Linked DNA regions of Homo sapiens. The protein of the gene in region 3 purifies or fractionates together with the protein of the main gene of each other region. This does not show direct contact. Each region holds a gene or a part of one and is shown on either strand. Other genes may lie near its edges.

Region 1 (8,030 bases), on a different chromosome or scaffold from region 3:
CTAAAATAAACTTTAAAAAAAAATACTGCATAGGAAAATGTCTGATTCTTGTTTTAAAGTGTTACTGTTTTATTTTTTTTCTTTTGTTGAATACACATTTGTTTTACTGGCAGTCCAGATAAACAAGTATATAAAGGAAATAGTAAATTTTTATTTTGGCAGAAGATAAACTGTGCAGATTAAAATGCCTCAATTTAACCTGAAGAAATGGTTTTGAATCATATAAATTTTTAAGAAGAAAAATAAAGACTGTCCAAAGGGATTCTCCTAGCTTATAACACATTTCCAGAATAACTCTCAAAAAAAAAAAATTCAAAAATACTCATTGACTACCTTAAAAATATGTCAATACCGTATGGCTTTATGAAATAACTTCTAAAATTTATATAATTTTTCTTATTTAAAAAGGACCCCAAGTTTTAAATAAGCTGCTAGCAGTATCATTTTCTTCACTTAAAAGTGCATATCTTTGAGGGTGGGACATACATTTTGAACAAATAATGATTTTTACAAATTAACACCAAAAAAAAAATCATTTAAAATATTGTAAGGAGGAAGAGAGTTTTCACCAAATGTCATCTTTAAATAGACTGCAGTAGACGACATTCTTCCTTTTTCCTTTTTATAACATCATAATTCTCAATGAAATGCTTTGGCAGTTTTAAGACATATCACAGTCTCTACCAAGACATACTGACATTAATGATGTCCGTGGCGATGGCAATTGCCTTGATGGCTCAGTTTGAAGAGACACAATGTTACTGGGCTGGTTCTCCAAATCAGAAACAAAGGTGCTCTCTTCTCTTACATCGAGAGTTTGTTCAACTGAAGCTGCCAGAGGTGGAATATTATCTACAGTTTTGTTGGCATTATTCAAGTTGTTACTAAGTGTGGCAATATCACATTCCTTGTCCAGCACACCAAATTCAGCTTCTATTGTAACTACATCTTTAGTTTCAAATGGTTCCAAGGAAGGAGCCAAAAACTCATTTTGTAGAGGGTCTTGAGGACCACTATTGTCACATTCTGTATCCTCCTTTACTTCAGAATCCTTATCACTGTCACTGTCAATGGTAATTACAACTGGGGAACGTGAAGCATTATCTCCATGGTGTTTCTTATGCTTCTTCTTATGTTTCTTCTTTTTCTTTTTATGGTGTTTAGTTGTATCAGTAGCTTTTCCTTCATAAACTATCTCTACACTTAGGCTCCGGGTCTTCCTTTTTCTCCTTTTGTGTTTTGTCTCTCTGTCTGATGATCGGCTGTCTGAAAAGGTATCACTCTCATTTTTGTAGTTTCCATCCAATTTTGATGAAGATTTTTGGTAATGACTGTCCTTTGCTTTAGAAGCAAATTCACGAGATGGCTGAGCCACTTCGTTAGTACCCTCCAAATGCCGTGTTTTGTATTTTCGTTTCCCTCCAGGCTTTTCATTTCTCACCCGGTCAGTCCCGGTAGATGCAGTCCTTGATCTGTTACTAGACAGGCTCCTTGATCTGTGCCTTTCATAGTAGTAATACTTCCTCTCACTGTGATTATTTTTTTTCCTAGCATTTGTTCTTTCAGAAAAGGACTGAACTCTAAATTCTGGACTTGAAGACTGTCTAGAATAATGAGCTCTGGACAGAGTCCTCCTCCTGTAAGATGATTCGTACCCATCCCTGTCCTTGTTTCTACTGTAATAAGTATACTCCCATTTGTATCTGCTTCCATAATTATTTCTTAAATAATAACGATCTCTATTTCTGCTCCGTGATCTTCTTTTACCATGATCACTGCTACGAGACCTTGATCTGCTTGTGCTTTCACTACTTAGAGACAGAGTTTGGCTTCTTCTGGACCAACTGCTATCTCTAGTTCTTGATCTCTTTTTGTCTCTTCTCCCTCTAGGTCTGCTACTTTCCCTGCTTCTGGATCGTTTACTTTTCATTCTTTTCTTCCCATGATGCTTTCTATGATTCTTCTGATCATGCCCACTTCTACTCTGAGAACGTGAATCTGAACTTCTTGATCTTCCCCTCTTTCTGTGTCTATGGTTATATGGAGAATATACTCTGTCTCCTCTTACAGATGAGTTCAGGTTTCTGGGAGATGACAATGATGTAGATCGTTTCTCTTCCTTCTTTGATTTGATTCTTGTACTAGAATCACAATGACCTTTATTTATTTGTTCATCCTTTCCAAGGACAGAGTGTGGAGATGAGCATCTACTAACATCGCTATCACCAGAACTGTAAGATTGCTCCTGTTCTTGTGTCTTCACTGTCTCCATTTTCTCATAAGAACCTAAGTCCTCAGAATCAGAGGACAGTTCAACAAGTTCTGGGGTCCTCTCAGCTAGTGGTTTAACAAACCCAACAATGACACAATTATCTGAAGAATCATCACTGTCATTATTTAGGTCGTCATTGGTTTGTACTCCTTGTATCTGAGACGTGGCTCCTCCTGTGACAAGTTCTTCATCTGAACTGTCAGAAGTATTTAAAAGAGAAGACATAGTAACGTGTACCTGCTCTGAGCTTGAGTAAGATGGTCCTGGAGTTTCATCATCCCATGGTGCCTGACTAACAGTGGCTACATTAATATCCAGCTCTTGGGTCTCAGCCTCATCTGGAGATATTGTTATGACTGAAGAATCAGAATGGCTGCCTTCTTCGTATGAAGGAGCAGGGCAATCATAATTGGCATGCTGGTCAAAGGCTGCCATGTTAAAAGGAGATCGGGCAAAACTGATAAATTCATGTATAAAATGCTCAGTTCGATTAAGTAAAAATGGTCTTAAATCAGACACAAATGCCTGACTCTCCAAGTCATAGCGAGTAACATTACTCATGATAATATGCTGGACAATATTCACTAAAGATCCATGAGCTCCAAAAAGAACTGTAAGTTCACGTTTTAACCAGGGGACTAATCTGTGAAGGCAAGCTGGATTTCTACGGAAAAATTCAGCTGAAATATCCCTGTAGCGGCCACCATCTTCAATATTTCTAACTCGAGCACCAGCACGATAAAGAGTTCGTCTAAAATTAATAATATCTTGTTCTTGAATTTTCCGCAAAGATCTTTCATCTGCCGTAGTTGGCCTCCTTACTGCAATCTGTCTCATAAACTGAGGAATTTCAACATCTCTAGGTCTTGTTGAAATGCCTAACCCTTCAAACAGTACTCCACTATCCGGTGGAGTTGTTGTTCTTCTGTTCACAGGACCACTAGGTGAATACACAGAAGCATTTCGTTCCCTTGTCAGAGTTGTACGGTAGCGAAATCGTCGATCAGGGGTGACAAAAGAACCATTATACGAAGGCCTTAGGACATACTCCTTGAAGTCATCTTCTGCCCTCACAGAATGGAAAATAGAATCAAAGGGCTGTTTACATAGTGGGCATTCAGCTTTGTTTTTTGACCACTCCTGTACACAGCGAAAACAGAACTTATGTAAGCAGCGATCTAAGTAAGACACATTATCAAATCTATCCAAGCATATAGGACACTTAGAATCAGGAGATGCATCAGCTGGTACTGTCTGTTGCAATTTGCTAGTGCCAGCTTTAGGTGAAAAGTTGTCCATTTTAAATTCCTTAGCAGCTGATGCCATTATCTGTAAAAGGGAAAGAAATATATCAGTAACCTGATAATAGAGGAATGACTAAATAGTCTCAACAAAAATGCAAATAAAGACCTTGAAACTTATTTTGGTGAAAATACTTAAGTGACCCATTACTTTTGTTTTATTTTATAAAGGGGCACTGTAGCATAGTAATATAGTGCTTAAAGCATAAGCTCTGAAGTCAGATTTCCTAAGACTGAATCCTGGTTCCACACTACCAGCGTGACTATGTGCCAGTTAGTATCTCTGTGCTTTAATTTCATCTGCAGGTCAGTGATAACAGAATCTGCCTTACAGGGTTTGTGAAGATGTAAAAAGCCCTTAGAAAAGGCACCTGCTACATAGTAAAGCTCTCAAATATTATGTAACATTCTATTATTCTTTTTAAAAATAATTTGAGAAATATCTGACATATAAAAAAAAAAAGTACCAAATACCCATGTATCCACCACTTATGTTATGCCCCTTATCTTCCCCTCCTATCACTCTCTAGAAAACAAAAAACAAAAACACCACACTCCTCAGTTGATGTTATTTCTATGCATGGCTTTATACCTTTCATATACATATGCCACTAACAATACAGACTACTGATTTATCTGTGATATTTTGTATGTACTTTTCTAAAACAACTTTGGTGACATAACTTACATACCAGAAAGTTCACCTGTTTAAACCAATCCTATGATTTTTAGTGAAAGATTCTTTTTTCAACCTTAGAAAGCTAATTTTAAAAAGGGAGAGGAAACTTTTAGTGAAGATTAAATAATAAATGAAAAAGCAGCCAAGAGGCAGTGCCTGGCTCACAGTAGGTGCTGAGTAAATGTCAGCTGTTATTATTACTACACTATTATATTCAGTTAATCACTCATTCCATTCAGCATTCCTAATAAGCCTTCCTTTAGCTTTTTTCTTTAATCCAAAAGTCAGGCCACAGAATATCTTGAAATCATGTTTTTGGTCCCCTTCCCTATTATCCTTTCCCATAAGGATGACTAGAATATTAAAGATTAGTTTGTTTTATCAGTTTACATTGGCTCAAAACTTTGCTAGAGCTTGAAATCTAGTATGCGTTTTGACTTTATCTCATAAACTCCAAAGCTGCATTTTATACTAATCATTTTGAGTATATTGACTATTGGGGAGTCAGGCGCGGTGGCTCATGCCTGTAATCCAGCACTTTGGGAGGCCAAGGCAGGCAGATCACCTGAGGTCAGGAGTTCAAGACCAGCCTGGCCAACGTTGTGAAACCTTGTCTCTACTAAGAATACAAAAATTAGCCGGGCATGGTGGCAGGCACCTGTAATCCCAGCTACTTGGGAGGCTGAGACAGGAGAATCGCTTGAACCCAGGAGGCAGAGGTTGCAGTGAGCTGAGACTGCACCATTGCAGTGGGTGACAAGAGTGAAACTCTGTCTCAAAACAAATAAACAAACAACAACAAAAAACTACTAGGCCCTTGGTTTCCCAGGGCCTAATATTCATCTTCCTCCACCTCCTTTATCACAGGAGGTTCCATCACTAGTCAACTGGGGTCAAGTTAATCAAATAACAGAATTGTAATTTTCTAAATAGACTCATTGGCCTTAACAAACTATAAGAAAAACCAATAAACAAAACCCACAACAAAAACTCATGACTGAAATACAAGTATTCCACCATAGCTTTCATATTAAACCTGCTCACTTTAGGGCATCTTGGCTTTCTCAGAACCATAACTTAATAGAGAATCAATTAATGCTAAATAAGCGTTTCTTCAGGGGTCCAGGTATGTCTAGTCTTCTATTTACTGGACTGAAAATGCAAAAACATCATCACTGTCCTGGAAGGTCTGGAAAAGCAGGATTATAAATACATAATACTGCTTTTTTGTTCATAAACAGTCTAAAACCCTAATACTGCACAACCTTCTCAGCATTTCCCTCTACTTTTAACATTTTTTAATCTGCCTACTCAAGAAATTTAAAGAAACACACACATAAAAATAAAAACCTTTCAGTTCAGAGACTGTGTGTGTGGTAGAGGGAAGGAACAGAGAAAAGTTGGGAGGGAATCAAAGAGGTTATCAAAAGATCTGGACTGAAGACCAGGCTTCACCTAGAACTAGCTCTAGTTAATGTGAAGAAAACCACATTACTCTAGACTTTAGTTTTCTCCTCTATATAATGAAGGGATTACTGGACTTGGAAAAAAGACCCGTGAATTCCAAGTTAATACATTTTATCTTCACTTAGTTCTCTGAAATAGAATTTTAGTGTTTTCTGAACACTTCCAGTTCACATAAAAATTACAGCTGAAAATGAATTTATTAAAGGGAATTATTAGGTAGTAAACTTGAAGTTCAAATAAAATAAAATCTCAACAAAGTATGATTTTTTTAAAAAAATGAAACCTTACCCTTCCCTTCTCTAGTTTTATAAGCCTGTTAACCACTTTGACAGTAAAAGGTGAATGAATGACTGGTAATGTCCTCCATAACAGGTTAAAAAATAATAATAAATTAGAATTCATTCTTGTATTTCTACACAGGAATCATTAGCTGAAAAGAATAATCTTAGCCGGGCATGATGGGCACACCTGTAGTCCCAGCTACTCAGGAGGCTGAGGCAGGAGGATTAACTGAGCCTGGGAGGTCCAGGCTGCAGTGAGCCATAATTGCACCACCTCACTCCAGCCTGGGTGACAGAATGAGACCCTGTTTCAAAACAAACAAACAAACAAACAAACAGTCTTCATCAGAAACATCAAAGAGGCGGGGCACGGTGGCTCACGCCTGTAATCCCATCACTTTGGGAAGCCAAGGCAGGAGACCCTTGAGGCCAGGAATTTGAAACAGCCTAGGCAACAAAGCGAGATCCAGTCTCTATTTTAAAAAAGAAAAAGAAACATCAAACAATTGGAATGCATGTAGATCAAATAAGTTATTAGCTCTTCAAAATCATCACTAAATACTAAATTAAAATGTTTTTTAAAACGCAAATGAAGTCGAACATATGACCCGGCAATTACACACCTAGATATACCCAAGGGAAACGAAAACTTGTCCACACAAAAAAACTGTATATGAATATTCACAGCAACTTTAGTCATAATACCTCAAAAGGAGAAACTCAAATACCCATCAATTGATTAACAGACTAATAAAATGTGGTCTATCCACACTATGGAATTTTATTTGGCAATAAAAAGGAACAAAGTACTGGTACCATGTTGTAACATGGATGAAACTTTTTATTATGCTAAATGAATGAAAAAAAAAATTCACAAGAACCCACATATTGTATGATACCTTTTATATGAAATGTCCAGAATAGGCAAATCTAGAGAGATGAAATGAGGCTGGTGGCTGCTGCTGGGGCAGTAAAGAGGTTTATTTCTGGGGTGATGAAAACGTTCTACAATTAATTATTGTGATGGTTGTACAACTCTGTAAATATACTAAAAAATCATTGACCTACAAACTTTAAACGGGTGAACTTTATGGATGGAATGTAATCTTTTATTTTATTTTTTTGAGACAGAGTCTTGCTGTGTCGCCCAGGCTGGAATGCAGTGGCGCGATCGTGGCTCACTGCAAGCTCCGCCTCCCGGGTTCACACCATTCTCCTGCCTCAGCCTTCCCAGTAGTAGCTGGGATTACAGGCGCCCGCCACCACGCTCGGCATTTTTTTTTTTTTTTTTTTTTTTTGTATTTTTAGTAGAGACGGGGTTTCACCGTGTTAGCCAGGATGGTCTCGATCTCCTGACCTTGAGATCCGCCCGTCTCGGCCTCCCAAAGTGCTGGGATTACAGGCGTAAGCCACCGCGCCCAGCCCGGAATGTAATCTTAACAAAGCTGTTTAAAAATACAAATTAAGGCATAAAAACTGGGATGACTAGATACAGATTAAGAGTGGTTGATTTGCTGGCCGGGCGCGGTGGCTCACGCCTGTAATCTCAACACTTTGGGAGGCTGAGGCGGGCAGATCACCTGAGGTCGGGAGTTCGAGACCAGCCTGACCAACATGGAGAAACCCGGTCTCTACTAAAAACACAAAAATTCGCCGGGCGTGGTGGCGCATGCCTGGAATCCCAGCTACTCGGGAGGCTGAAGCAGGAGAATCACTTGAACCCCCGGGAGGCGGAGGTTGCAGTGAGCCGAGATTACGCCACTGCACTCCAACCTGGGCAACAAGAGCGAAACTCTGCCTCACACACAAACACACACACACACACAAAAGAGTGGCTGATCTGCAAGAGACGTTCTGAATTTAAGTAGCAAAGGTAGACCCGATGAAAAACACAGTGCTTCAGGTTCTGTAAGAAGCCTGTGTTACGGGTTTTCCATCCTAGCACTCTAGGAATTAGGACATTTCCTCACAGGAGACAATCAGTTCTTCCAGTCACACTTCCTAAACTGTCTCCCAAATCCTAAATGAAG
Region 2 (8,030 bases), on a different chromosome or scaffold from region 3:
GTGGCCCAGGGAAGCCAAAAGATTGGACACCCCTGCTCTAAAGATTCAAAGCAGTAAGATTAATATTCCTTTTTTTTTTTTTTTACCTTTTAGAAAACGTTTCTCATTCAAAAACAGAAAATGATGTCCTGAAGATGTCCTTAGTTTAATGCATGTTGATAAAACTACTTTTTAGGATTTGTGTAATCTCTGTTATCACCCTTGTCTATTCCAATTCTTAAGCTTCTCCAAAATGGCAAAGTTATGAAAATGCGTAAGAACTGTTTCTGTACATTAAGTATTAAGTAAAATAAAAAATGGAAGACTTTAGGGGAAAAAATCATAGATACCCAGACATTTTACTGTATTCATTTTTATTTTTATATTTTTGTTTATATTAGGATATTATACAATTTTCAAAGCTAATAACAGAAATCTTTTTGTATGTATATTTAAAGCATAACAAAATAAAAGTATTTCACAAAAGATGTCCATATTACAGTACTATTGAAATATGAGGCACAGGGTAAGTATGCATTTGTGGGTTAAAAACATAATACATTCATTTTAAAGAATAAACATTTAATGTGAGTAACATTTTGGTTAAAATAAATATCATAGTAAATGTTAACAGCAACACCTGAAGTATATGGATACAAGAAAGGTGTTTTGTAATAGATACTATGTTGAATGGTAAAGCATTCATGAAATGGCTGTAATATCTTACTAAATTTACAATCATTGCACATTGTTGAGCACTTTATTTATATAGAGATACCCTTCATCCACCATTCCTAAACCTTACCATACAAAACAAAGTTACTCCATATTTTCACCTGGGTAACTGGTACCAATGTCTAAATAAGGTTTAGAATAGATATAGCTTTCATTTTACTGCTCCTCAAATCAATTCAAAAGTTTAACTTAATCAATATAAAATTTACTTATGAACACATATAAAGAACATTTTATAGGTGACTATATAAATTAGAGCTTCAAATCATCTTCATAGTTCTTTGAAATTATTCCATTCAAAATTAAAATTTGATTTTTACACAGTGGTTTCTTCAGGAAAAATATGAACATTTAGATTTAAAAAGATACAATATTCGAAGCAAAAAGTTTCCACATATAGAAATAATGAATTTCCCTGATCATTAAATTCTTCCCAGCTATTTCCTTCTAGCAGATATATTCACTGAGAAGAAAAGCTTTAATCTTTACTTAAAAGTTACTTTGAGGGGTCAAGCTAATGAATTTTAGATCTATGTATTCTTAAAGATTGCAAGAAAAAAAAGAGAGTATCTGTTCCAACCAGAGAACATTTCATCTCAATTATATTACATTAAAATGAACATGACATTAATGGTCAATAAGAATAATTCTTCTCATACTTCTAGGAATATATCTATGGATGCTCAGTATAAATGTTAAAAGTCATTAAGAGTGTGAGAAAAAAAATGCATCTAGCCCTCAGGAAAAACAAACAAAACAGGTTTCCTTTACCTATTCCAAAATAAAATTACCCTTCAGAAACCATACATAACTGATTAGATTTCAGAAAACAAGGGTTCAGACTTTTTGCCCTTTATACATTTTTTAAGTTTACAAATGCTTGAAAGCATTCAAATGAGTGTAAGAAAAACACATATGAAAAACAAAACCAGCAGTTACATCGGCTAAAGGGAAGTGTTCTTTGAACATGAGGTTTTCACGTTGGCAGGATAATTCATCCAAGGTTGTAAGATGGCACAGAGTCCTTTAACAGTGACTTCCTCTTGGCCTTCAGGCTTCACAATTCTGTGAGAAACTGGTCGCCACTAATACGAAAGCATTCAGGGAAAACACATCTGCACAACAGCATTTACGAAATTCTGCCCATTTCCTTAAGCTACACGAAGTGTTACCATCTCAGTCATCTTCATGAACAAATACAGTACTTTACTCAAAAGCTTCTCAATAGAAATGTTAATCTCATAACAGTTCTGGCTGTAGTCATGGCCAGTTTTCATTTTATTAAGCATATTCTAGAATTACAACCTTGTCAAATAAATTGTAACTGTATCAACATTCACAGGTACAGTATAACACACATCCTTTCTTCCTCTTTAACAAGACCAAACATATGCATACAGAGTGGCCCAAATTTTAAAAAGTTTAAAAAAAGTTTTCAATCCAGGAAAAGTATTGGTATACCAAATATCTTTTAAAAGGGTATTATACTCTCAGAAAGTATGAAACATTAATGGATAAAATGCACATACAATATAAATAAGAAAGTAACTTGAAGAATAATATAAAAAAATTTCTGAAGGGGACCGATCAGAACTTCAATAAAACTTATGAATAAAAACTTAGGCTTATATTATAGTGTACAATTATGAGTTAAAATGCACTTAAATTTATAAAGAAATTGAAATATAGTACTGCAAGGTTATTCAAAGAATATTTTTCAAATGTACAAACAACAATAAAAACACACAAAAAAAGCCTTGGGCAATGTGCAACTTTAAAAATTATTATCACACCAGCTAAACAAATCCTTAACCACTTTTTAAATGGATTCATTTATACCATTTCAATGCAAAGAGAATATCAAAAATATTAAAACAAAACAAAAAACTCTTCAGTGTCTGACTCACATTTTGTCCCCAAATCTTCACATTTAATAGTTACATTTTGAATGTATAAGCTAAGAGTTCTAAATGTTTCTCAAATAGTTTGTGTCTACATTTATCATAAGAATCATATTTGAAAACTACTCTGCTAAGAACTAAAACTAGTACTTCAAACGTTTAAAAATAAAATCTTCACAAAAGTTCACAATTGTGTTCATCTCAATGTCCATAAATTACTAAAAAAGAAACAAGTCACATGTTCAGATACTTTTTCTCAGGTATGAGTCTATTCTGATGTGTGCCAAGCTGCACCTTCAATATTTGGCACTGACAGTCTATCTAAACACAATTTATCAGCAGAAAACTGTAAGAAATTCTATAAACCTTTAGCCATTCAAAACCATCATGTTTCATTTTCTCTCCTAACATGCAATTCAGTTATTCCAAAGTCATTTGGGGGTTGCAAGGAGGTGATTTAGGTGACTGGTACAAAATGAAGCTTATATGAAAACTGGTTAAGGATTCAAAGCACACTAGCTCTGAAATATTAATCTTAACACCAGACATAAATGGGGAGGTATGACTTGCACAAAATACTTTCAATTACTTTGGTTACACTCTTCATGATCTTGCATGTTTAGCTGCTTGCAGTGCATGCATGCATCCTCTTTGCTACGTCATAAACATAGGTGACGTCTGGTCGCTTCTCTGGATCTGGGTTGATGCACATATTAACTAACTGTCGGAGCTGTGAAGAAAGAAAAACAATAAAACCTGATTAAGACAACTATTTTTGGTTAGTTTACTGAGAGGAAGAAATTATGAATAGCTATAGATTTTACAAGGAAAGTACATTTTCTGACTAAACATTCACTGTACTAGAAATATATATAAGACTGCTGCCAATGATCTTACAATAAGTTAAATGTTCTATGAAGTGCATTGAATGGACAGTATTAATGTCAACCAAGAAGTATTTTCCACAATCAGAGGCTTTAAAATGGACTCTCTTAATTTTTCAGAGTTTAATCAGAAGATAGCAGTCACTGAGGACACTAGTCTTATAACTATAAGTCTCCAAGTTAACTGTAAATACACACATACATATTTGATCTAGAATCTACTACAACAGACTTAATTGTAAGTTTAAATGGAAGGCAATTAGAGTTGACATACATTTATAATGAACCATTTTGTACAAATATATATTAAAAGTTTTATGTTAAATTTTGTATTAGAGAAAAAAACACTCCTTTAAACTAATTATAATAAATTATATGGGAAGTTATAAGTGTTATTCCAATCCTCAATTGTGTACACAGTATTTAAATGTCCTCACTTTATAGATGAGAGAGTTGAGGTTTACTATTTTATTCTATTTATATCATAGAATAAAAGCAGATTTCAATAAATTAAGAAACTACCCTCCTATATGGTCCTCGATCCATCGGGTAGAAGAACATAGCATTTTATTGTCAATTCTAATTTCCATCAGTTTATGAAACTATGTGTCATCATAACATTGTATATGATCTTCATAGACAATAAACTAAGAGGAAAAACTATATTCTTTTGCTTTGTAGGTCTCTTTAGGAACAGTTTAGACATTTTGAGAATTTGCATTAACTCTGGCCACGATATAGCACTTAGTAAATTTTTAAATTAGCACAATTTCTTCATAGTTCTCAATTTCTACCATAAAATAACTTTCAACCAGAGAAAATACAAGTGATGATTAAAAAGCTTGGGCTGAAGATGTTGCTAGTGCTATGGAGAAGGCTAATGGCACTGAGAAATGTCATTCTGAAAGAGGAGGTGGGTCAAAGAGTCTGCCAGATGAAGGGTCAGAGTTTGGTAAGGAGTACAGTGAAATGGAAACCAGTCTTGTTGAAGGCACTTTGTAGCTCTGTGCCCTTGGGTAAGTCACTGTCTCTGGAGGTTCATTTCTTCATCTATTAAATAGGGAAGTTGGAGTGGATGACCTATAAGGGCTGTTCTCATCCTAATCTCTTACATTTTACGATTCTAGCAGAATGAAATTTAATGAATCAATTTTAGCTACACTTGGAAATTCAACAATGTTTCATAGTAATGTTACACCCACTGGGAGAGCCTGAAGATTTTAATTTATATTCCTTCCAAAAGAGCAGAGAACAGCATTTAAAACCCTTAAGGGGTACAGCAATACACAAAGCATTTTATTATGGTGATCTAAGAGAAATTTACATCAGAAAGAGACTGGCATTTTACCAGGTTACCAAAAAAAAAAAAAAAAAAAAAAATAAATATATCCAGTAATACACAATGCAGAAGAAAGTGGGAAAAGCACTTACATAATGACACATAATTTAAAAGATAATGTGTTCTAATGGGTCATCTAGCTGTCAGATATTTTCTTTAGAGATAAAAACAAGAAAGCAAGCAGAAAGAATAGCAGGAAAAGATAACCATGGTACAAAAAGTTCATTATATTTAGCTAAAATACAAGTAGATGCATGCAGTAAACAATTTTTTGACTTCCTAACACTGCCACATCCTTCAAGCTGGTTCAGAAACCTTAACTTTTCCTGTGTAATAATTCAGAATAGGGTAGAATTTCCAACCACTAAGAATGAATGACTGGCCCTTAAGTTCTCCTGGCATGAGGAAAAACCAAGATTAGAGATATAATGATGCACGTTTAGTTGAAGCAGACAGTGATTCTCTAGTTCACCAAAGTAAAAAGACAAGAATTGGGAATAACAAAAAGGGAGAAAGACACTGAATAAGGTAAATAGGTAGTGGGAGTGCCAGTGAGCAGATGCTTCTAAACTGCTCCTTTAAGGATGGCCTTTCAAAGGGATGACAGGTCAATTGGTGACCTTGCGACAGGCAGAGCCACAGCACCTTGGAGTTTGCTTTTCCTTCCCCACTTATTGATTCAATCTCCACCAAATACGAAGTGTATCTTGTCATAAAGAGTTTCCTTTTCCAGAAGAATCAAAAGGGCTATCACCATATAAAATCAGATATGTGAAATACAGAATATGCATACTTTACTATATTTATGAATCAATCTGTTGATAACTTTTCCTCAATTATTTGTTACATTAAAAAATTAATAAAGTATAAAAAGAAAGAAAACCTACGAAATTAAAATATGCTTTGGGAATGCTCCCACTTATCCACTCCAGCAACATTTCTAGATGATCTACTCTGCAAGAGACACTATGCTGGTGATACTTGATGGCACCGGATAAGACAAAGGACCTGTCCACAAGGGAAGGCTTGTTGTCCAGCATGAGAAGTGAGAGAATGACTCATTTTCCTTTCTAACCATCTGACTCTTTTGTTCTTTCTTTTTGCCCCCTCTTCCATTTTCATCCGTTCATTCAATTGTTCATTCAATAGTTTCCAATGGAGTATTTATTATGTACCAGACACTTTGTTAGGTAGTAAGGATAAAGCAATAATGAAAAATACACAGCACAGGCCCTTAAACAGCCTACAATCTAGCGGAAGATAGACAGAACAAAGAAACAAATGTGAAAGTGAGGAAATCACAGAAATAATTCTATTATAAACTACAAAGTGATAGGTATCTCAAGAGATATCTGTGAGATAAAGGTAAAAGATTAAGTGTGGCTGCCCAGAGGAGGAAATAATTACTTTCCTCTTTTTCTAAAATCTGTTTAACTATGAGTTGTTGCACCTCGTACACGGAGGTATCGATACCCACACAGCTGACAGTATCCTTCTCCATTCCAAGTACTGCAACCCTCATCTTGGGTCACTTTCACATTTATTTGATGTGAATCAATATAAATCTCTTTGATTACCTGACTGTAATCTTCACCTTCATACCAATTTAGTCTCTGTCTTCCAAGGACACAGCCTGTTTCTTAAAATGCTGTGTCACATCAGAAATGTAAGCACACACAACTGTCCTTCTGTGTCTCTCCCTCCCTTCCTCCAGTATGGTTGTGTTTGATTTGACTGAGACCATTTCCAATCCCTTTCATCCTGGTCAGCTCTATCCTTTTGGATTTACATCATTCAATTCCGGCCTAGACCTTCTCTTCCCTGACGTTTTCTTCCTAGTTTCTTTTGGAGGTTTATCTTCCTTTGAAAAATCTACCAAATGTTGGTATGCCCTAAATATTTTCCTTTCCTTAACTCTTTTCCTGTTTCACTCTTCCTTCTTATCTTCAACAACTGCACTTACTCCCATGCCTTCAATAACCACCAACATGCTGAGGAACACAGGTTATCTGTCTCCAGCCTAGACCTCTTTGCAGGCTCTGTTCCCATACTTCCAACTGCCTTCTGAGTAGAGCTGCACGTAAATATTCACATTAAACATGTTTAAAACTGAAATATTAGTATTTTTTTCTCCCCAACCAGCTCTTCCTAACAGCACCTCCAACTTCTTAAGTCAAAAATTTGAAATTCATATCAAACATCTCATCATACTTCCTTCCCACCTGCCTAACCGTCAGCAACCAGTCCTATTGGTCTCAGGCTCCTTAAACCTTTTGTTTGCTCCTGCCACACCATCTCCACTGCCACACTCTTGGATAGTCTTCCAGCTGACGGCTTTGCTTTCAGTTGTCTTCCTATTTCTCTAGCACTGCCTAACTAGCCAGGTGATGCTTCAACTTTAAGCATTTCAATGGCTCCTCATACCTCTTAGAAAAGCTAAGGCCCACCATAGATGGGGAGGAGGAGCCAAGATGGCCGAATAGGAACAGCTCCAGTCTACAGCTCCCAGCGTAAGCGACGCAGAAGACGGGTGATTTCTGCATTTCCATCTGAGGTACCGGGTTCATCTCACTAGGGAGTGCCAGACAGTGGGCGCAGGTCAGTGGGTGCGCGCACCATGCGCGAGCCGAAGCAGGGCGAGGCATTGCCTCACTCGGGAAGCGCAAGGGGTCAGAGAGTTCCCTTACCTAGTCAAAGAAAGGGGTGACAGACGGCACCTGGAAAATCAGGTCACTCCCACCTGAATACTGCGCTTTTCCGACGGGCTTAAAAAAACGGCGCACCAGGAGACTATATCCCGCATCTGGCTCGGAGGGTCCTACGCCCATGGAGTCTCCCTGATTGCTAGCACAGCAGTCTTGAGATCAAACTGCAAGGTGGCGGCGAGGCTGGGGGAGGGGCGCCCGCCATTGCCCAGGCGTGCTTAGGTAAACAAAGCAGCCGGGAAGCACCAACTGGGTGGAGCTCACCACAGCTCAAGGAGACCTGCCTGCCTCTGTAGGCTCCACCTCTGGGGGCAGGGCACAGACAAACAAAAGGACAGCAGTAACCTCTGAAGACTTAAATGTCCCTGTCTGACAGCTTTGAAGAGAGCAGTGGTTCTCCCAGCAGGCAGCTGGAGATCTGAGAACGGGCAGACTGCCTCCTCAAGTGGGTCTCTGACCCCTGACCCCTGAGCAGCCTAACTGGGAG
Region 3 (8,030 bases):
CAGTCTGCCTTCCTCCTCAGCTCAGCCGTCTCAGCACTCTACCCTTCCCCAGAAGAGGAACACAAAGGAGGAAGGAATGTACACTGTTTCCCTCATAGTCTGATCCCAAGTGAGGATGATTGTCTTTTCTCATTTACAAAATGTCCCTGCATTCTCCATGGGTGGTGGAGGTGGCAATGAGGATGGATGGATGACTGGACAGAAAACGTTCCTCGCTTGCCTGTGAAATTTTCGAGCGTGCAGACTTGACCCTGCCCCAACCCAGTGTCTTTTCCCAACATTTACTCATTCATTCATTCAGTCACTCAAGTCTAGTGTATAATTCATGCTGTTCTTGGTGTTCTGAGATAAAGAATTATAAGAATGTCATCGCCAGGCGCGGTGGCTCACGCCTGTAATCCCAGCACTTTGAGAGGCCAAGGTGGGCGGATCACTTGAGGTCAGGAGTTTGAGACCAGCCTGGCCCACATGGTGAAACCTCGTCTTTACTATAAATACAAAAATTAGCCAGGCATTGTGGCAGGCACCTGTAATCCCAGCTACTCAGGAGGCTGAAGCAGGAGAATTGCTTGAACCCGGGAGGCTGAAGTTGCAGTGAGCCAGGATGGCACCACTGCACTCCAACCTGGGCAACAGAGGAAGACTCCCTCTCAAAAAAAAAAAAAAAAAAAAAAAAGTCTTAACATTGGGGGTAATAAACTATATGAGATTAATAATAATTTCTGAAGTTATCGACATTAAACAGTGCCAGAATGAGTGGCACTTAAAACACAGCAACAGAAACTCAGATTTGAACAATTATGAGTAGGAAGATATTCTAAATAGGAAAGCCATCATTTACTCTCAGGTACAATTTGAGGGAACAAATAAGGAAACCAGGCTAGTGACAGGGAAGTGAAACATGAATGTATAAAGCCACATTGTGGAAGGCAATTAATGTTTAAATTTGTTATTTATTCTTGTGCATCTCTTCACATGAACCATATTGACAGCCATTGTTGACCTTTGGGTGTATTTACTTGTAGTCTTTTATTTAATACTTATTGTATATATGTACTCACTAGTCTGTACAAATACTGATATGTATGTATACATGTTCATACACATGTACAAATATAAACTTAGGTATATGCACACACGTATATAAAAAGATTAGTATATATAAAACATTAAATTAAAAAATTTGACTCATGACAAATAGTCTCCATGAGGGAAGGAAATGTTCCCAGTATATAGAAGTGTACTGTGCGTATACTAAGCACTCAGTAAATATTTATTCAATGTATGAATAGCTGTTATTTGTATACGTTTTTCACTTAACATATAATGAGCATTTTTCCAAGCATGTTTTGGTAGCATGAGTTTTAATGACTGTATAGTGTTCCATTCTAGGTATATAGTATGCTTTATTTAAGTTTGCTTTTTTTTTTTTTGAGACGGAGTCTCGCTCTGTCGCCCAGACTGGAGTGCAGTGGCATAATCTCGGCTCACTGCAACCTCAGCCTCCCTGGTTCAAGCAATTCTCGTGCCTCAGCCTCCCGAATAGCTGGGACTACAGGTGCACGCCACCATGCCCAGCTAATTTTTTTGTATTTTTAGTAGAGATGGGGTTTCACCGTGTTGCCCAGGCTGGTCTTGAACTCCTGAGCTCAGGCAATCTGCCCACCTTGGACTCCCATTAAGTTTGCTTTTTACTGGGGAAAATTTAAGTATTTCCCAATATGTTGTTGTTATAAATATCTTATAATAAATATTCTTATACATAATTTGTTAAGTATATGTCTTTTTATTTTCTCAAGATATACTCTGAGAAATAGGAAAACAGAATCAAAGGATATAAGCATGTTTTAGGCTTTTGAAAAACTGAAGTTCTCTTTTAGAAATGTTATGTGAACTTGAACTCCTACAACCATTTGATGAATGATTCTATCTTACTGAGCCTTTGCCAGCACTGAGTATTAAGTTTTAAATTTTGCCTTGATTTGCATCCTTTTTAATCCTTAGTAGGGTTGACTTTTTCACATATATTCGTTGACTCTTTATATTCCTTCTTTGATGAATTGCCTTTTGATATACATCACTGTTTTCCTACTGAATTTTTTGTTTCCACTTGATATTAGATATTCTTGTGTGGAAAACATATAAATCATTTGTCATATGCTGTAAATATTTCTCCTAGTTTATCATTTGCCTTTTACTTTAAGGACTTGTTTATATAAGTTTTAAATTTGCATAAAATGAAATCTCATTTCTTTTACTTATATAGTTCTGTGCTTTGAAATCTCTTCTTCACTTCCAAATTTAATATGTAATTGCTTTCATTTTCCTGTTTCTTAATTGTGTTATTTTAAACATTTAATTTTTAAATCTATCAAGAATTTATTTTGATGTGAGAAATGACAGAATTTAAACATTCTTTTTACTTCCTACTTAGGTTATTTAATTTTTCTACTAACATTTATCTTCTCTACTGACTGTGGTGCTACCTTTTCATATACAAATTACACATACACATATGTATACAAAGATTACTTTTGAGGCTGTCTTGTTTTGTGGAGCCTCTTCTCAATTCTTACACTGGTATCAGAATGTTTTTATTGTTGTCCCTTTATATGTAGTGCATTTAATACGCAATGAAGAAGAATGTAGCATTTCTTTTTCACTCAGTGAAGATAAAAATGAGAGAGGATGGCTTTTTCCACAGAATAATATTCTGATGATTTCCATTTTGGTCAAAAAGATGTAAAAGGAACATATATATAATAAGTTTTAGATAATAAGTATATACTAACCTTTCATTATGTTTAATCAATATAGCACATTGGTCATAGTACAGGCTCTACATCCACTACCTAAGCTTATTGCATGTCTGTCACTTCTTAATACTGTGAACTAGATTGAATCACTTAGCTAGGCTTTCATCTTTATAGTGGAGAAATAACAGCTGCTGTGTAGGGCTGTTAAGAATGTTAAACAAGATCATACATGTAAAAATAACTTAGAACAGTGCTGGACATGAAGAACTAACAATTGATTGCATTGTTAGCTATTATTTGAACTATAATGCATATCTGATATAATTCTTTTTAGTCACTAAGACGTAAGAATTGAGACAGAGTATCAAGCTTAATTTTTTTTTTTTGCCAGATGTCATCATTTGTCCCAACATCATTGATTGAATAAGCCGTCTTTCCCCCACAAATTTGATGTAACCTTTGTCATGTGTAAAATGCACTGTTGTACTTGTGTCCATTTCTGGATTTGTACCCGTTTCCATTGATCTTCTCTACTTGTATGTCAAGCCATGTTATGAATTGCAGAGTCCTTATTAAAGTTTTAATATGCCATTGAATTAGCCTCTCCTCATTATTCCACTTTCAAAATGGTTTTCTTTCAAAAGCATTTGAAAATCAGTTTGTTACAGCTCCTCCAACCCCACATCAAAATCAAGATTAATATCTTGATTAAATCTGCTTGAAAATAGAGATAAGTTTAGTTAGAACAAAATTATATTTATTTCTCCTAAGACTGAGCAGAGTCATCTTGTTTTTTCAAGCCTATTTGTTGTTGTTGTTGTTTTTGTTGTTGTTTTGAGACAGAGTCATCTTGCTCTGTTGCCCAGGCTGGAGTTCAGTGGCACACTCTTGGCTCACTGCAACCTCTGTCTCCCAGGTTAAAGTGATTCTCATGCCTCAGCCTCCCAAGTAGCTGGGATTACACGGGTGAGCCCCACATCTGGCTAATTTTTGTATCTTTAATAGAGACAAGGTTTCACCATGTTGGCCAGGCTAGTCTCGAACTCCTGACCTGAAGTGATCCGCCCACCTTGGCCTCCCAAAGTGATGGGATTACAGGCATGAGCCACCGCACCCGACCCCAACCCTATTTTTAGCACTCAAAATTCTAAAACTATCTTTATATAGGTTCTGGTATTTTTGGTAAATTTATTTTTAGGAATTTATATTCTTATTGCTATTATAAATTTCATTTAGGCAGAGCTTGCAGTGAGCCGAGATCATGCCACCGCACTCCAGCGTGGGCAACAGAGCGAGACTCTGTCTCAAAAAAAAAAAAAAAAAAAATTCTAATTATTATTTATATGTCTGAACTCTTTTTGTATACTCTTAGATTTTATGTAATTTGAACTTTATTATGATGTATTTCCTATAAGCAAAAGAATATATGAAAACATACGTACAATTTAAAATATAATAACACGGACACTCACCATTGAACTCGGCATACACTGTTTTTTCTTTTTAAGACAGACTGCTTTCTCTCCCAGCCTGGAGTCCAGTAGCGTGATCTCAGCACACTGCAACCTCCACCTCCTGGGTAGTGTTTTTTTTTTGTTTTTTTTTTTTTTTGTTAGAGACAGGGTTTCGCCATGTTGGCCAGGCTGGTCTCGAACTCCTGGCCTCAAGTGACCTGCCTGCCTCAGCCTCCCAAAGTGCTGGGATTATAGGTGTGAGCCACCATGCCCAGCCTAAATCAGCATATACTTGTAAAAGCCCTCTGATGACTCCAGAATTTCTTTCCCACCCCTCTCCTAAAGGGGCAGCCACTATCTTAAATGTTGTTATTCCTTAATTGTTTTTTCCTGCGCTTTTAACTACAGGTACATTTCTAAACACAATTGTTTAGTTTTGCATATTTTTGAACATTGTAAAATTGAATCACTATATATTCTTCCATGAATGGCTTCTTTTGCATAATGCTAAATTTTACAGTGCATCGATGTTGATTCATGTAGCTGTTCATTTTCACAGCTGTGTACTATTTCATAGTATGAACAACTTATCTGTTTTGTTGTTGGACTTTTTGGATTGCTTTAGTTTTTTGCTGTTACAGCATTTATTATGCTCTAACTGTTCTTGTACAGATCTTTTGGTATACATGTGTAATGTCTAGTTTATAATTCTAGTAACAGAATTTCTGGGATCATGAATTCCCTTATCATTGCCAGTAGTTTTCAGCTGATTTTCTTGGATCTCTCAGATATGCAGTCATATCCTCTACAGATAATTTTGTCTAATTGCATTATGCTGTAGTTTCACAGTAGTTTAAAAGTTGTGGACTTGCAGTATCCTTGTCAAGTTTCCAGTTTTAATGAGAATGACTTTAATGCTTTATCTTTGGGTTTAAGATATGTTTGTATGTCTTCTGCTTTGTTTTGTTTTGCATGCTTTGTCTGTAGTTTTAAATGAAGGATGCATGTTGAATTTTAATAAGTATACTTTTTGGCATCCATTACAATAATCATATGGCTTTTCTTATTTGATGTTATTATAAAAGCTTAAAGTTAATAGCTTTCCTAATTTGAACCTTCCTTTTCTTTCTGGAATAAACTACCACTTTACCATGATATAATATGCTTTGGTATTATAACAGATTGAATTTTCCAAAGATGGCCTTACTTATTGTTGGGGTGATCAGACCCAACACCAGGTCGTGGGGGTGACAAAGTCCGGCGGAGTCAAAGGATTGAGAAAAAGACAGTGAGAGAGAAAAGGAGGTGGGAACACCAGGGGGCCATCGCTATTGTACGGAGGCTGCGAAGGCCCCAAGCTCTGGGAGCCCACGCTATTTATTGGTAATCCAACAGAGAAACAGGTGGTGAGAATGTGGAGGTCAAAAGGACACGTTGCATTAAGCACATGATTTACAGCTGCGATAGTTTAGCATTTATATGGAACATGTTCTGCTACTTTAGATAGTGGGAATAGGAGCCTAGGAGGGCTAGAAGCAAGGAGCCAGCAAGTCTAGACACATTCCAAAGGACATTATGCAAACCCTGCCTCAGTTTCCTTCACAACACTCAGCTTTTTCCCAACACTTACAATTTATGCTGTTTTCATGCTCTTCTTATGATGTGACTGACATTGTTTCCACTGAAAGGTGGGGTCTGTGTCCCACCCCTCTCAAATACAGCCATGGCTTGTGATTGCCTCATCAGTGGAGTACAGTAGAAGTGATAGGATGTGACCTCCAAGGCTAAGTCATAAAAACAATGCAGCTTTTGCTTGACTTTCTTTTGGGCAACTTGCACCATGCTGACAGATAGCCCCCGCCACTTGAAAGGACCACGTGGAGAAAAAACAGATCTCTCATCAACATTTAGACCAGCCTGCCAGCCATGGGAGTTAGCCACCCTGGAATTGAATCCTTCTTCTCAGTCAAGCCTTTTGATGACTGCAGATGTAACCAACAACTTATCTTGTGAGATCCAAACCAGAGCTGCCTAGCTAAGCCACTCCTGAATTTGTGACCCAGAAAAAAAAATAAGAAATAGTAAATAATTATTGTTGTTTTAAGCTACTAAATGTTGAAGTAATTAGTGATATGGTAGTAGATTATGAATTCAAGTGCTGCTGGATTTTACTGGCCTTATGTTTCACTTTATTTCTGACGTCTTGAAGAGTTTTTCGTTTCTGATGCCTTGAACAGTTTTTGATGCCTTGGGATAATTTCATAGCATCAAATAATCTGTTCTTTGAAAATTTGAAAGAATTTGAGAAAACTTTTGTTCCAGTTATTTTTAAAGGTTGTAGTTGCTATTTCCCTAATCTTATTTTTATTTTTTTCTATTTGTGCTCCTTTTCCCCCCTTTGATTAACTAGCTTGTGATTTATCTACTTTGTTATTAATATTTTTCCTCTCAAAGGACTGGCTCTTGGATTCATTTAACAGTGGTAAATGTTTTCAAATTCCATCTTTTTTTTCATTAATTCCATCTTTTTTCATTAATTTTATAGTTTTCCCCTTAACATTTAAGTACTTACTTGATCTATATACTTAACCATTGTATATGGTATTAAGTTGGAATCCAGTTTTATTTTATCTCATATAGTTAATCAGTTTTCATAATGCTATCTGGTAAATAATCCTTACCTCTGTCTTTGATTTTTAATGCCACCTCTATTGTTAATATGTTTTTGTAGATAAAGAAGCACATTGGTTAGTCTCTGAGCCCTCTGCTCTGTTCTACTGGTCTATTTGTCTCTTCTGATTTTACTACTGTAGTTTTGGTGATATGTCAGTATCTGGTAGTCTTCCTGTTTGGTTTACTTGTCTTTACCAACTTATTTCCTTCCTTGTCAATTTTAAGGAACAGAAGTCTATTGCGTTCCTCAGAATAGCCATCTGAATATTTGACTGGAATGTATTGAATTTAAGTTACTGCATCCAAGAGCGTGGAAGCATGCTTCTCCTTTTATTTAGATAATCTTTCTTCTTTATTGGAATGTGAAAGTTTTCTTCAAATAATTATTTGTATTCTTGGTTAAGATAGGGTTTTTTTTCTGGTGTGAATGGTATCTTACTTTCTAGTAGTTGATTGCTGAGTCATTAAACTATTTATTGTATCTGATAGTTTTGCTGAACTCTCTTAATTTATAGTTTATTGTATACTCTTTTTCTAGGTAGATGGCCATAACTATGCAAATAATGACATTTTATATTTTTGCTTCTAATTCTTGTAGCTCTTAGTTCTTTTTCTTATAGTATTTGCCAGAATCTCTAGTGCTGTGTTGAAAGCAGCAGTGACGGTGGTCATTCTTGTTACCATTGTAAAGGGAATATATGTGAAGTTTCTCCATTAAGCTTAAAGTTCTTGATATTTAACCTTTGCCACTTTAGGGAGTTTATTTTTTTCCTCTAGTTTGCTACAAGTGTTTTTAAGAGAATACATCGGTGTTGAACTTCCTGAACTTTATAGCACTTGATTTTTCTGCATCAGTTGAGATTATCATGGATTTATTCTATAGTCTATTAATATAGTGAATTGTGTTAATAGATTTTTCTCATGTTGAACGATCCTTGCATTCCTATAATAAACTGTCTGATCATGATGCATATATTTGATATATTACTGAATTTAATTAGCTAATATTTTATTTAGGATTTTTGTATATTTACAAAATTTACAAATGTGCCTGTAATTTAATTTTATTTGTATCATTCTTATCTGGTCTTGGAATCCAAGATTATACTAGCTACATAAAATAAGTTGGCAATTTTCACTCTCTACT
Region 4 (8,030 bases), about 40 Mb from region 3:
ACTTAATAAGTAATTTGTCCAGAGATACTTTGAGATGATGTGAGTAATAGATGACTTCCAACATCTTCCAATAAAACCATCACACGACCCTTAGAGCCAGGCATGATCAAGTCACAGATTGATAGAGCAAGGCTCAGAGAGATTTTATAAGTAGCTCTTACTGGAGGTCACCCAGTAGGTGTTAGTGGGAGAGCTGCTTTCTGAGTCCACAGTGAGCTCTTTGCCACTGCTCTGTACTGTCAGACTTTGTTGAAGATGACACAGTGTTGGGGCCCTGGCAGGTGCTGATTGGAAGCCAGCTCCCCCACCCATTTGGGCTGACCCTCTATGGAGAGCGCATCTATTGGACTGACTGGCAGACCAAGAGCATACAGAGCGCTGACCGGCTGACAGGGCTGGACCGGGAGACTCTGCAGGAGAACCTGGAAAACCTAATGGACATCCATGTCTTCCACCGCCGCCGGCCCCCAGGTGAGCAGCCCTTGGCTCGCATTGGCTTCTCCGTGGCCCTCCTATGCCCTAGCTCTCCCCATTGAACATCCCCTCCTCTCTACCCAGTGTCTACACCATGTGCTATGGAGAATGGCGGCTGTAGCCACCTGTGTCTTAGGTCCCCAAATCCAAGCGGATTCAGCTGTACCTGCCCCACAGGCATCAACCTGCTGTCTGATGGCAAGACCTGCTCACCAGGTGAGTGAAAGCATCACAGATCTAGATGCAGCCTCTCTGGGAGGGGGCAATGGCTCTCTTCCTTCCTTGCAGATGGGCTCCAATGTGGTCTGAGAAACCATGAGTCCTGCTGCTTCTAGAGGCCCAGGGGAGAGACTCACGGCTTTTAGAAAAGGGGACGGGCCTGGGGAGAGGCCCTGGGGAGCAAGTAGAAAGGACTGGAGGCAGGGTCCAACTAGTTCTTATGATGTCTTCATGCATATTAGATAAAGATGCTCCTTTCTCAAGACACTTTCCTCTCATCTCTTAGTACATTGTCATAATATACTGATTTGGTTGGAATAAGACACTTCTGGCTGGGCACGGTGGCTCATGCCTGTAATCCTAGCACTTTGGGAGGCCAAGGCAGGCAAATCACTAGAGGTCAGGAGTTCAAGACCAACCTGGCCAACATGGTGAAACCTCGTCTCTACTGAAAATACAAAAATTAGCCAGGCATGGTGGCGCGTAATCCCAGCTACTTGGGAGGCTAAGGCAGAAGAATTGCTTGAACCTGGGAGGTGAAGGTTGCAGTGAGCAGAGATCACGCCACTGCACTCCAGCCTGGGTGACAGAGTGAGACTCTGTCTCAAAAAAAAAAAAAAAAAAAAAAAGACACTTCTAACTGCCCAAAATTGGTATAATAAAAACAGAAATGTATGATATCTACAATGTCACAGTACCCTCCTCCTTAGATGTGCCACTTTTGTGAGTGCACAACCTATGTGACAACCTTATTGGAGGGTCCCAGAAGCAGTACCTGGCTACCCAGATGTCGGAAGTCAAGGCTTCTCCCTAGGAGATGCTGCAGGGTAGGCTGCATTTGAACTCTAACCTCCCTGGGAATTTGAGTGAGAAAGGAGCTGTGAACTGTGCCTCTCAGGTTGTGAGTAAAGCCCCCTGGGGTCCCTTTATTCCCTTTCTTTTTTTCTCTTTCTTAATCTTCATGGTAAAGGGTCCTTCAAAGAGAGCCACTTTCATAATATTAATAAAGAGGCATTATTTATGAATATGTGTGAGACCTAATGGTAAGTGCTTTATGTACATGATCTTTTAACCCTTACAGCCACCCCATTATTGTCCCCATTTTATAGATAAGAAAACTGAGGCCTAATAATTTAAGCTGAGAGTAGTGGCTCATGCCTGTAATCCCAGCACTTTAGGAGGCTGAGGTGGGCAGAGGCTTGAGCCCAGGAGTTTCAGACCAGCCTGGGCAATATGACGAAACCCCATCTCTACAAAAAAATACAAAAATTAGCTGGGCATGGTGGTGTGTGCCTGTAGTCCCAGCTACTCAGGGGGCTGAGGTGGGAGGATCGCTTGAGCTCAGGAGGTCAAGGCTGCAGTAAGCCATGATCATGCCAGTGCACTCCAGCCTGGGCGACACAGCAAGACCCTGTCTCAAAAAATAATAATAATTTAAATAACTTGCCTAGAATAACATAGCTAGAAACTAGCAGGGACAGGGCATGAGTTTCAGTTTGCCTGATTCCAAATCCATTTAATGGCTGTGCTCGAGTGATCCTCTTCCCTCCTCTCCACCTGGCAGGCATGAACAGTTTCCTCATCTTCGCCAGGAGGATAGACATTCGCATGGTCTCCCTGGACATCCCTTATTTTGCTGATGTGGTGGTACCAATCAACATTACCATGAAGAACACCATTGCCATTGGAGTAGACCCCCAGGAAGGTCTGTATGGCCCTCTCTTCCCACCTGGCCTTCTGTCCCTGCCCTTCAACAATTACTGTCTTTCCTCTCCCACCACCTTTGTCTCCTGCCAAGAGCCAGGGTGTTTGTTCCCCATTCCCTCTGGCATAGCCCCTGTCCCTGTCTCTCTAGCACTCTCTCTTTGGTTGTGAGAGCATGGTTTGGGGCCCTCTTCTCTCCGTCTCTGCCAAGAGCTATCCTGCTATGATATTTCTGCGTTTTCCTTGATTTCCTCTGCTAGAGGCTCCAGAGCTCTCTGACATGCTCTGGTGTTTCAAGACATGAATCAGCTGTGTGTGTCCCATTGTAGGCGGTGAGGGTCTAGGTTGAGCCAAGCTTTCCCTCTCCAGGAAAGGTGTACTGGTCTGACAGCACACTGCACAGGATCAGTCGTGCCAATCTGGATGGCTCACAGCATGAGGACATCATCACCACAGGTGGGCCTTCCTCCTAGCCCAGGGACCACCTGTCTGGCAACAGGGCTGGGGAAATAGCCCATCTGTTTTAAAATAGGAGCCAGTGTGCTCTTTTGACTTCCCACAGGGCTACAGACCACAGATGGGCTCGCGGTTGATGCCATTGGCCGGAAAGTATACTGGACAGACACGGGAACAAACCGGATTGAAGTGGGCAACCTGGACGGGTCCATGCGGAAAGTGTTGGTGTGGCAGAACCTTGACAGTCCCCGGGCCATCGTACTGTACCATGAGATGGGGTGAGAGCTGGCTGTATCGCACTGGGTAGTGTGGGGGGCCAGCTCAGCTGGGGTTATGACGGGGTAAAGGTGGGTAGTGGAGAGGAAGCTTGCATCACAGAAACAAGGTGACCTCCCTGGGGCTCTTCCACTCTCTTGTGACTTCTCGCAGGGTGACAGTACAGTGTAGAAGTTAAAAGCATGAGCCTTGAATCAGAATACCAGGATTGAAATGTTTTCATCATGTATTAGCTATATCACTTGGGTCCGGTATTTAACCTCTCTAATTCTCAGCTTCCTTACCTATTAAATGGAGGTGGTAGTGAAAATACATACCTTGTGGCCCTTATGAAGGTTGAGATAATGCACATGAAGTATTTTGCAAAGTACTTTGTCAAGCAAAAATTTTGCCTGACATACTGTAAGTACTCAAGTGTATCTGACATACTGTTAAGTATTCATGGTATGTGGTAGCTGCTGGAATAACTAGCTAATATAGCTAATATTCTTCCTCACTCAGGTTTATGTACTGGACAGACTGGGGGGAGAATGCCAAGTTAGAGCGGTCCGGAATGGATGGCTCAGACCGCGCGGTGCTCATCAACAACAACCTAGGATGGCCCAATGGACTGACTGTGGACAAGGCCAGCTCCCAACTGCTATGGGCCGATGCCCACACCGAGGTGAGAGCCGTGTCCCTGCTGCTTCCCAGGAGCCTGGGAAGATGGGAAAGGCCTGCCTAGGATCTCCATGGAGAGTTCCCAATCTGCTGATCACCACCCCCCACCCTCTCCTTCCTCTGCAGCGAATTGAGGCTGCTGACCTGAATGGTGCCAATCGGCATACATTGGTGTCACCGGTGCAGCACCCATATGGCCTCACCCTGCTCGACTCCTATATCTACTGGACTGACTGGCAGACTCGGAGCATCCACCGTGCTGACAAGGGTACTGGCAGCAATGTCATCCTCGTGAGGTCCAACCTGCCAGGCCTCATGGACATGCAGGCTGTGGACCGGGCACAGCCACTAGGTGAGAGTCAGAGGGCTGGGGCTGTGAGTCAGAGCCTCTGGCTTTCTGGGGCCATCTCAACATCAGAGATATATCCAGAGCACAGAGCTCCTTTACAGCCAGAAAGACGGTGACCTGTTTAAGCTCCCTTCCAGATTGGGCTGTGTTCTCTCTGGGTATGGCTGGTACTACAGCTGTCACCTTCAAAGGACTCCTGGAGATCCTCCTGCAGACCCTCCTTCTACCTCACCCTGCCAGGCACTGAATCCTGTCACTTAGAACAGCAAAGAGCCAGCCACAAACAACTGGGACCTTTGTAAGATTCAGATGATGTTCCAGGCTAGGTGTGAATACTTGTGCTTCTCATCACCAGGTTTTAACAAGTGCGGCTCGAGAAATGGCGGCTGCTCCCACCTCTGCTTGCCTCGGCCTTCTGGCTTCTCCTGTGCCTGCCCCACTGGCATCCAGCTGAAGGGAGATGGGAAGACCTGTGATCCCTCTCCTGAGACCTACCTGCTCTTCTCCAGCCGTGGCTCCATCCGGCGTATCTCACTGGACACCAGTGACCACACCGATGTGCATGTCCCTGTTCCTGAGCTCAACAATGTCATCTCCCTGGACTATGACAGCGTGGATGGAAAGGTCTATTACACAGATGTGTTCCTGGATGTTATCAGGTATGAGCAACACTGAAACCTCCAGAAGACACAGATTTGCTTCTGGTCGCCCATGGGTGAGGTTGTGTTCTGACCACTAAATGGATGAGTGATTTGGCACTTTGGATAGTGAGTTTTAATCCTGACTTGTTCACTTTGTAGTGTTGTCACTTACAGCAGAGTTTCAAACTTTCATTTGTTTAGAGATTATATGGAAGCCTAGTATGTAAAACAAACAACAACAACAAAAAAAACAGGTAAAGTCAGGGGACCTGGAGACTTTCACATCTACCATTGTGCCCTGAGGGAGCTCCAAGAATCCCCTAGGACTTACTGATGAGTAGGCCATATAACCAGTATCTGTATTGCAGTAAAGGAGCCCCAATCAAATGCCAAGTCTTATGGTGGTTTACAAAGCTGTTGTTTTTTATTTTTTCGTTGTTTTATTTTTAGTCTTTAAATTTGTGGCCCTAACACAGCTTAGGAATATGATGTCCTGCCACCAGTAAGAGTGGTTTACCATGGCAGATATTCTCACATGGAGGAACAGGGAACATTCCCCTTTGCTCTCCCCAAGGGATGTATTAGAATCTCAAACTGGGGACAGGTAGGCATATACAGTTTAGGGAAGTCCCCTAGGTGACAGTGACATGCTCCCCATTCTGAGGTAGAGTTCCCTCCTGCCCATAGGGCCTTTGCAAAAGTGCACAATTAGGGTCTGGCGTGGTAGCTCGCGCCTATAATCCCAGCACTTTGGGAGGCCAAGGCGGGAAGATTGCTTGAGCCCAGGAGTTCAAGACCAGCCTAGGCAACATAATGAAACCTCATATCTACTTGTATTTAAAATTGTTTTTAACTTTTAAAAAATGCACAGGTTGGTTTTGACAAATCTGCGTTTCTTATCATCACCACCTAGCAATCCTTGTCTCTTCCCAAAGGTATGTGGGGAATGATAAACTTGTCTTCTAGCAAGACATCCCCTGGCAACCGCCACTATGTCCAGTTAGCAGGAAATACTGTGTCCTCCTAAGAACTGGTTCCTTCATTCTGCAATTATTTTATTGAACATCTATCATGCTGGGTGCTGAGGAATGTACTCATAGATACCTGGTCTCTATCCCTGTGGAGCTTACAGTTCAGTGGGGTCCAGTTATGGGAACATGGGTTAAAGTTCTACTCTATTCTGGGTCAGTCTGGTTGCTCATCCAACACTGGGCTCTCCCCAAGGCGAGCAGACCTGAACGGCAGCAACATGGAGACAGTGATCGGGCGAGGGCTGAAGACCACTGACGGGCTGGCAGTGGACTGGGTGGCCAGGAACCTGTACTGGACAGACACAGGTCGAAATACCATTGAGGCGTCCAGGCTGGATGGTTCCTGCCGCAAAGTACTGATCAACAATAGCCTGGATGAGCCCCGGGCCATTGCTGTTTTCCCCAGGAAGGGGTAAGTTTATGGCCAGCAGAAGAGAGATCCAGGGAAGAAGGGCTGGGTGGAAAGATGGTGTTAGTGGGTCCTCTGTGTTCTCTCAACCTCTGGGTGCTGTCTTCCCATGCCTTGATGATGATGGCACTGTTGTGTCTCAGGTACCTCTTCTGGACAGACTGGGGCCACATTGCCAAGATCGAACGGGCAAACTTGGATGGTTCTGAGCGGAAGGTCCTCATCAACACAGACCTGGGTTGGCCCAATGGCCTTACCCTGGACTATGATACCCGCAGGTGGGAGTCTTGCATCAAACAGCCTCCTGGAAATCGGGTGGGCAGAAGAGAGAATGGTTGAGATTAACCTTGGAAAAATGAAAAGATAGAAAGCTTCTTGGTATGTGGGGAAGAGGAATCATTGAGAAGGATAAGGGAATATATTCTTAGAGCAGCGATTGCTAAATCCAGCCCTCAACCCTTATGTGGGTTTTGTTTGGCTGGTTTACATGTTCCTAATTTGAGTGCCTTTGGCAGAGCATGTCTTCTGGCTGGACCACAGGTCTCACACCCCTACTCATTTAAGGGCTGATTCTTATATTTGTTATAATATAACAAATCCTGATCCCTTCAGGCTCTGGAACTTTGTTGTTGTTGAGACAGCATCTTGCTCTGTTGCCCAGGCTGGAGTGCAGTGGCGCAGTCACAGCTCTCTGCAGCCTGAACCTCCCTGGCTCAAGCCATCTTCTTACCTCAGCCTCTCAAGTAGCAGGGACTATAGGCACATGCCACCATGCCCAGCTAATTTCTAAATTTTTTGTAGAGACAGCATCTCGCTATGTTGCCCAGGCTGGTCTCGAACTCCTGGACTCAAGCAATCCTACTGCCTTGGCTTCCCAAAGTGCTGGGATTTCAGGCATGAGCCACCACGCCCGACCCAGGCTCCGGAATGTACAACTCCTTGTCTAGATAAGAAATGCTAAGGGCAGGGGGAAGGGGCTCTAAAGCAGTCTGTGCCCCCTTCTGATCCAAAAGAAGGGGAAGGGAATCCAAGACTTCTGGAAAGGTGGTAGAATGCCTTCTTCTTTTAACCTCAGCAAGGTCCATGTAGACTGGGCTCACTTCCTTTTTTGTTGTTGTTGTTGAGACAGAGTCTAACTCTTTTGCCCAGGCTGGAGTGCAGTCGCACGATCTCGGCTCACTGCAACCTCCGCCTCCTGGGTTTAAGCCATTCTCGTGCCGCAGCCTCCCAAGTAGCTAGGATTACAGGCACGTGTCACCACGCCTGGCTAATTTTTGTATTTTAGCAGAGACGGGGTTTCACCATGTTGGCCAGGCTGATCTCGAACTCCTGACCTCAAGTGATCCCCCGCCTCGGCCTCCCAAAGTGCTGGGATTACAAGCGTGAGCCACCATGCCCGGCCGAGTGAGCTCTCTTCTTAAAGACCATTTGTAAGAAATTGGGCTTTGATTATTGGGTAGGAGTCAAAGGGCAATCAAATTCCTGAAGATGAGGCTGGGTGGTGGTTCCTCTGAGGTCACTAGACTTTCTATGCCTCCCCAGAGCAGCCCTGACCTCCCCACTCATGAACCACCAGCTCCCTTCTTCAGCTTTGGGACTCACAATGACCCCTCATCGAGGGTGCTTCTTGAGTTCTCATAGCATCTGCCAGTCAGCTCAGGAGGGGACAAACAGGTTCATAGGGGGAAGAGCTGGGCTCCCTGGCAAGCGTTTGGAGCAGCCACTCTTTTCATTTTCTTCGCAGGATCTACTGGGTGGATGCGCATCTGGACCGGATCGAGAGTGCTGACCTCAATGGGAAACTGCGGCAG

Evidence for each region.
Region 1: the proteins of ZNF214 (region 3) and TOPORS purify together in Homo sapiens (affinity purification with mass spectrometry; 2 studies listed by BioGRID and IntAct, with this or other methods). This does not show direct contact.
Region 2: the proteins of ZNF214 (region 3) and NEK7 purify together in Homo sapiens (affinity purification with mass spectrometry; one large-scale study listed by BioGRID and IntAct). This does not show direct contact.
Region 4: the proteins of ZNF214 (region 3) and LRP4 purify together in Homo sapiens (affinity purification with mass spectrometry; 2 studies listed by BioGRID and IntAct, with this or other methods). This does not show direct contact.

The regions. Positions count from the first base shown.
Region 1 is NC_000009.12:32,540,726-32,548,755, forward strand, and holds part of TOPORS (E3 ubiquitin-protein ligase Topors), read right to left. Parts: intron 3,602-8,030; coding exon 662-3,601; 3' UTR 1-661. UniProt on the Homo sapiens protein: Functions as an E3 ubiquitin-protein ligase and as an E3 SUMO1-protein ligase. Probable tumor suppressor involved in cell growth, cell proliferation and apoptosis that regulates p53/TP53 stability through ubiquitin-dependent degradation.
Region 2 is NC_000001.11:198,314,727-198,322,756, reverse strand, and holds the end of NEK7 (serine/threonine-protein kinase Nek7), read right to left. Parts: intron 3,346-8,030; coding exon 3,235-3,345; 3' UTR 337-3,234; downstream 1-336. UniProt on the Homo sapiens protein: Protein kinase which plays an important role in mitotic cell cycle progression. Required for microtubule nucleation activity of the centrosome, robust mitotic spindle formation and cytokinesis.
Region 3 is NC_000011.10:7,011,142-7,019,171, reverse strand, and holds part of ZNF214 (zinc finger protein 214), read left to right. Parts: intron 1-3,147; exon of another isoform or gene 3,148-3,352; intron 3,353-8,030. UniProt on the Homo sapiens protein: May be involved in transcriptional regulation.
Region 4 is NC_000011.10:46,871,567-46,879,596, reverse strand, and holds part of LRP4 (low-density lipoprotein receptor-related protein 4 precursor), read left to right. Parts: intron 1-281; coding exon 282-471; intron 472-558; coding exon 559-690; intron 691-2,257; coding exon 2,258-2,398; intron 2,399-2,766; coding exon 2,767-2,853; intron 2,854-2,959; coding exon 2,960-3,131; intron 3,132-3,630; coding exon 3,631-3,793; intron 3,794-3,915; coding exon 3,916-4,141; intron 4,142-4,493; coding exon 4,494-4,797; intron 4,798-5,180; exon of another isoform or gene 5,181-6,003; coding exon 6,004-6,222; exon of another isoform or gene 6,223-6,362; coding exon 6,363-6,497; exon of another isoform or gene 6,498-6,523; intron 6,524-7,963; coding exon 7,964-8,030. UniProt on the Homo sapiens protein: Mediates SOST-dependent inhibition of bone formation. Functions as a specific facilitator of SOST-mediated inhibition of Wnt signaling.